2 separate regions of the Homo sapiens genome follow, and region 2 is linked to region 1. Evidence: fine-mapped expression QTL. A gene starts in region 1. The other region holds a variant in brackets. All regions are shown on one strand. Distances are from middle to middle.

Region 1 (2,901 bases):
TCAGATAGGCTGCTCTGGCCGCAGCAGCCCCTTAGGGTAGAAAGACAAGTAAGCTCGGAGGGGAAAGTGAACGGGTCCTGCGTGGGTGGCTGTGGCCTTGGCTGTCACCGCAGCAGAGGCCCCTGCTAAGCAGGCGAAGAGCGAGGAGACCGTGAGAAAGGCCAAAGTCAAACTGAAAACCCCTTCCAGCTGGCCTCTGCTCTTGGGAACTTGGAACCATACGTTGGCAACAGGCTCGCCGACAGGGGCACGCTTTCTCCCGGAGAGGGCACTGGGGCGCCTGGTTCTTCGGGCGGGCACGGGAGAGGGGGGCACCTCCCAGCACGCAGGAGCAGCCAGTGCCAAGCTGGAGGAGGGGAGGGGCGTGCAGGCAGAGACCTGGGGGTGGAGTTAAGGGAGGGAGGGTCAGGAAAACTTCTCATTCCCTGCCTCCATTCACCCTCCTGCACCATCTCTGTAAGGGGCCTCTGCTTTAAAACGTGGGACATAGATGCCACCAGAACCCCTGCCGGCTGCCGGAGTCCTGCACAGAATTACATCGGCGCACTCTCTACTTCTCAGGAACAGAAGGGATCCGAGGGAGCTATGGGTTCATCTCTGGCCACATGCATCCAAACTAATAAAATCATCCCCCATCCCCCTGGCGCCCTGCGGGGTGCTGGCGGAAGTGCAGGTACCCCTGAATGAGGCGGAGGAGACTCTGGCTAGAGTTCTCGTCCCCACGCGGTCCGCACTCCGCGAACCAAAGGGGGCTGCAGGTATATCTAGCCCGGCTCGTCCTCTTTCCCCGGCTCAGCTGACTTCGACGCCCGGGAGTTTGATCCTCGCCGCCGAGGCCCTAGAGCTCATTCTGATCCGACCCCATTCCTCTCGGGGAAGTGGGCTCGCGGACGGATGCACACGACGGAGAGAAGGAGCAGAAATCGGGGCGCCGGGACGGGAGCCCTACTCCGAAGCCGGCAGAGCCATTCCGGCCGCCGCTGCGGGCTCCAACATTGGCCGCAAAGTTTCCGGCTCTTTGGGGCCCCGCCTGCGGGTCGGAGACCCCAGCGCAGCCTCTCCCCTCTGGGGTGCACACTCCACGCGCTTCTGCCACCTGCCCGGGGACGCCAGGAGCGGGCGGTGGCGCGTGGTCGCAGCACTTGGAGCGCGCGGCCCCGCCAGGAGGTCTCCGGCCGCGCCCTTCTCTCCCCCCACGCCCTCCCGCGGCGGGGTGGGGGTCGCAAGGGTCGCGGCAGCCGTGTCTTACCCAGTCCCGGCACGAAAGTGTTGAGGAAGAGGCAGATGACGGCCACGGGGAAGGGCATGTAGGGGATGGCGGCGCGCAGGGGGCCCTTCTTCTCGCGGACCTGCACCACCACCCCGCTGGACGAGGACGCCCCCCGGGGGTCCGCCGCCGCCACCGCCGCCGCCGCCGCCGCCGTCTCGGCGTCTTTGTGCGAGGGCTCCATGGCCGGGCGCGCTCTCAGGCAGCCGGGCAGCACGGCCGGAGCTGGCGCCCAGCGTACGGGAGCAGGAGACTGTCGGCTGCGGGCTCCGGGCTCCGCGCCGAGCTCAGGCGGCCGCCGTGCTCCGTGCGCCGCGCGGCTCGCGGAGACTCCCGCCCTCCGGCGTCCCCACACGCCCGGCGGAGGGGCGGGGAGGGCGGCGCGACACCCGGTGACAGCGCTCTGACGCCCCTCCTCGCCAGGCCCCTTCCCCGCCCCCTCCCCCCAACCAAAACCACCGCTCACAAGGAATGGAAAATCAGGGCGGAGGGAAAGCAGTGGAAGAGGACCGCAAAGGGAGCTGTTTGCCCAGGTGCTGGAAGGGGTGGACACACCTCGCCCTCCCAGACAGGTGAACTAGGAACCTTGACCACGAAGCCCTGCGAACTGGGAGTGTGTGCTTGGCTGACACCGTCGGGAAAGCCTCGAGGCTGAGTCCCCTGATCTAGAGCAAGCCTTTGGCCAGGGACATGGGGACAAGGGACGGACCGCGCGGCGCCTGACACCTAGTCGGCCTTCAGTGCATTGTGATTTAAATGATTTTGTTTGGGGCGAGCGCAGTGGCTCCCGTCTGTATTCCCCACTTTGGGAGGCCAAGGTGGGAGAATTACTTGTGCCCAGGAGTTCGAAACCAGCCTGGGCAACGTAGCGAGACCCCCCCCCCCCCGCCCCAGCTCTATTTTGTAAAAAAAAAAAAAAAAAAAAAAAATCACTTAAAAAATATATAGGAGTGAATTTGTTTCAAGTGTCAGAGAAAAAGCAATCCAGAGATCGGATCGATAATAGAGGAAACAGATTTGCAAACACCAGGCCAGGTCTCCGCAAGACTAGTTAAAAGATGGGACACTTCCCTACACACACGCACCAAAAGCAGAAAGAAATGCGCCTGTTGCAGGCTTGTTGGGAAGCGTTCACCATCCCCTGAACTATACTGGAGGAAACCTGAGCCTTCTGTGAGCCCGACGTGGTGGTTAAAGAGCCAGTGAGGACACAGCGCCGTCTGGCGTTAATAATGGGGCAGTTGGTAGAAGCAACAGCCGGCAGCTTGAGGTCCTGTTTGAATTCGATTTTCTGAATAAGGCTGCTTCGCCTCCGCACCTGGAAAAAGTAAACGGATGAAAGTTACCGCCTCTAACGTTAGGGAGGGGTTAAAGGCTTCGGAATTATCCAGACAGTCAGCAAATCGTCTGAATAATTGGAAGGGTGCAATAGCCTCCCTTCAGGAATAATAGTGATTATTATTATAAACAACCCAGGGTCTCAGAAGAGGCTAAAAGAACATGGGTTATTGTATACTTATACTTATTGTATAAGTCTCTGAATAAAATAATTTTAAAAGCAAATGGCCAGGGGTTAGTGATGATACTGGTGGACACACACATGCGTGTGTACACATACACAGATACACACACAC
Region 2 (2,901 bases), 39 kb before region 1:
TCCCAGCTAACACTAACTGGCACAAGGAAAATGATGGTAATGAACTGTATTGTCAACCACCAAAATCAGTGTGTTGTAAGATACCTGGGACTTAGGCACAGACATGTGGTTTGCACGTCCTACCATGATCCTGGGAAGAAAGGCAGGCAGCAGAGGCCTGGGGAAGTCCTCCCACGGAGAGTTGCAGCAAAAACACAAGCAGAGCTGAGCCCTGGCTGCCATCACTGTGGTCTCTGTACTCTCAGCTTCCCCAAGGAGCTCCGGGCCCAGGCTCCAAGACAAGGCAGTAGGGAGAGAAAAGGGTCCCTCCACTTCCGTCCTGGGAGCCCCAAAGAGATTCTCTGGGCTTGTCCTCTGGGGAGAGTTCCTGGAGCTTGGCTGTCAGGCACGAGAAGAGAAGCAGCCAGGAGTGGCTGGTACAGTCTCCCATCAGGAAGGGGGCGGCTCTGCTCCCACGAGATAGAGCCTGAGAGCTGGAAGTGTCCTTGGAGTTCTCACCGGGTTCAGCTTTTCGCATGACTCACGTGGGAGCTTTGGGAGGTGCTGGGTCTGGAGAGGGGATCTTAAAGCCTCTTGGAACTCAGTGGGAGAAAGGCAGAGCTGTCTTCCGAAGCAGCTGCTTCAGAGTAAAAACTGCCCCCAGGACCTAGGCCAGCAAGTTGTTTGATCCCAGATGTCACCTCCAGCTGGCTCTGCAGTCATTATGATGTGCTGCTCCTCAGTGGCTGTGGTTTACACCTGGACACCCTCCCTCACTTCTCCGGAGGAGTTGGTTGAGGAAGGCCTTTTTTCAAGGCCTTACCCTGAATGTGAGCTTTGGGGGTCAGGAAGGAAATGTACAGCTGATTTTGAAAGCCAAAGAAACAGGTTCTTCACACCCTAAGAAACAGGACCCATTGCCAAGGGCTGCCTAGTTCAAGGCCAGAATAAGCTAAATGGGAGATTATGTTCAGGGTCAAAATCAGAGATTGCTAAAAATACACCTTCCCGGGCCCCACCACCCTAAGAGTCTGATTCAGGAGGTCTAGTCATCATCTTTGCCTCATTGTGCAATTATTTCAACCAGAAAGAAAAGGAAAGGAAAGAGAACTGACTACAAGTTTCACAAATACTTCTGGACAAGTCCCAGGGACACAGAATCAGCGTAGCCTTGAATGTGAATGGGGCCTATATGGCTGTGGCCTGAGTAAAC[C/T]AGAGGAGGCTGCAGAAAGCAAGGCCAGGGTCCTGGGCCACTCAAATGCTCTTCATGGCAACTCTTTTGGGTTCTGTTTTCTCAAGAAATGGAGCAGAAGATATGGGATATCCTGTGCTCATATGTGCTGAGGGAAGGCAGTGTCATCCTTTCAGCTCGGCCACTCCAGAACAGAGCACAAGAAGACCACACTAGGTGGGAGAGGAAGGTGTCAACCAAAGGGCATATCAGCGCAGGGTTCGAAGCTGAGCAGGTCTGCGGAGGGGCTGTGTCTTCCCCTAGAACTGCACCGAGTCATTCCCCTAGAAAGTGTTTTGTAGACCCAGCACTGTGTGCAGCCTCATGTCCTGGCCAGCAAGGAATTTGCAAGGAGGACTCAGAACATAAAACCGATCTGGAATAGTGCAGAGTAAAACATGAACAGTTCTAGCATCCTCATCATCCTGAACATCCACACACTTTTGCAGAATGAATCTGCCAGTGCCCTCGATGCCTCTATCCTGGAGCAGCAAAGGGTCTGTGAGTGGCTTTCAACATTAGAGAAAGCACAGACACCATAGTGAGGTCACACTGCCCATTGGAAAGCCGAACTTGCCAGCATTTCATTGTGATCCCATCACAATGCAGTAACTAAGGGGTCTTTCCTGCTATCGGCAGTTCCCAGTGGCCAATAACCCACCTTTGATCAACTAGAGATGGGAGAGTGGATTTATTATGGCTTAAATCTTTCCATGCATGGGTTTCATGGAAGAGAATGAGGAAGAGTGGACAGGTGGCCTTCTGTCTCCCAGCAGAGAGAAGGTGTATGGCATCTTGAACCACTTCTCCCTTAGCCTCAGCTGCTCCCCCACATCCAGAGGCCCTCTGTTCTCTCCCCAGTCAGAAAGTGCCAGCTTGGGACAAACCCTCTTCATTCCTCCCAGGGTCTCGGGTAAATGCTAAGGGTTCTCCGGCAAATGCGTTGGGATTGTGAGGTTTGAGGGGGTCAGGGGAACACGGTGGGGTGCGAGTCTTCAGGCAGACAAGGGGTGTACAGGTGAGACCCTGGTAAGTCACAGTCTGCAGGTGTATTGCGGCATCAGGTGGGCTGCAGCTGTTAGTGTGTGCCTTTGATTTTCCAACTGGCATAAAGGAAAGACGACAGGAGCCTTCTTGGATGCCACACATCCATCTGGTGTCCTTCCTTCCGAGGACAGAAGGAAAATGAGACCAGCTCCCTCCTCCATCCCCCTCAGTCTCCTGACTGTGACATCAGTTCTCATCCTGCTGGGGGTGAAGGCGACTGGAGCTAATAATTAATTTTAGTGGCGCCGGGTGTGCATCAGCTTCCCTGTGCTTATTAGCAAACCTCCTCTGCCCTCTGCCTGCCCCCTCCTAGACCTCTGATGTGCTCCCAGCCTGGGCACTCTGTGGCGGGGCTGGGGAGCTGCGCTACAGAACTGGACACCATAGGTCTCTTCAGGGGTCTTCCCAGGATGTTAAGCTGGAGCAGAAATTTAACCACATGGAATTTCTCAGTTCCCTAACTGCGAGCCTGCCATGACAGAGTCTAGGCTTCAGTGCTAGAGGGTGAACTGAGGAGACGGGGATGGGACGGGGAAGGGTGGTTGTGTAATGGCCAGGGCAGGGGAGCCCAGGACAATGCAGTGGCCCTTGAGGGCTTAGCCTCGTCCTTCCTACCTTCCAGCAGGTCGGTGTTAAGGGTGGCC

Evidence for each region. PIP is the estimated chance that this variant, and not a neighbour inherited with it, causes the effect.
Region 2: its variant is the best candidate, but not a certain one, in a credible set for the expression of STUM in tibial artery (GTEx, PIP 0.51).

The regions. Positions count from the first base shown.
Region 1 is chr1:226,547,455-226,550,355 of GRCh38, reverse strand. STUM (stum, mechanosensory transduction mediator homolog) reads right to left here and starts at 1,592. Exons shown (of 4, transcript NM_001003665.4): 1 at 1,250-1,592. The coding sequence starts at 1,451. RefSeq lists a silencer at 2,314-2,608.
Region 2 is chr1:226,586,815-226,589,715 of GRCh38, reverse strand. All of the region lies in intron 1 of STUM (stum, mechanosensory transduction mediator homolog), which reads right to left. Among named protein-coding and RNA genes, the nearest start is that of STUM, 40 kb to the right of the region's middle. The variant C/T (reference allele first, on the strand shown) is at 1,193.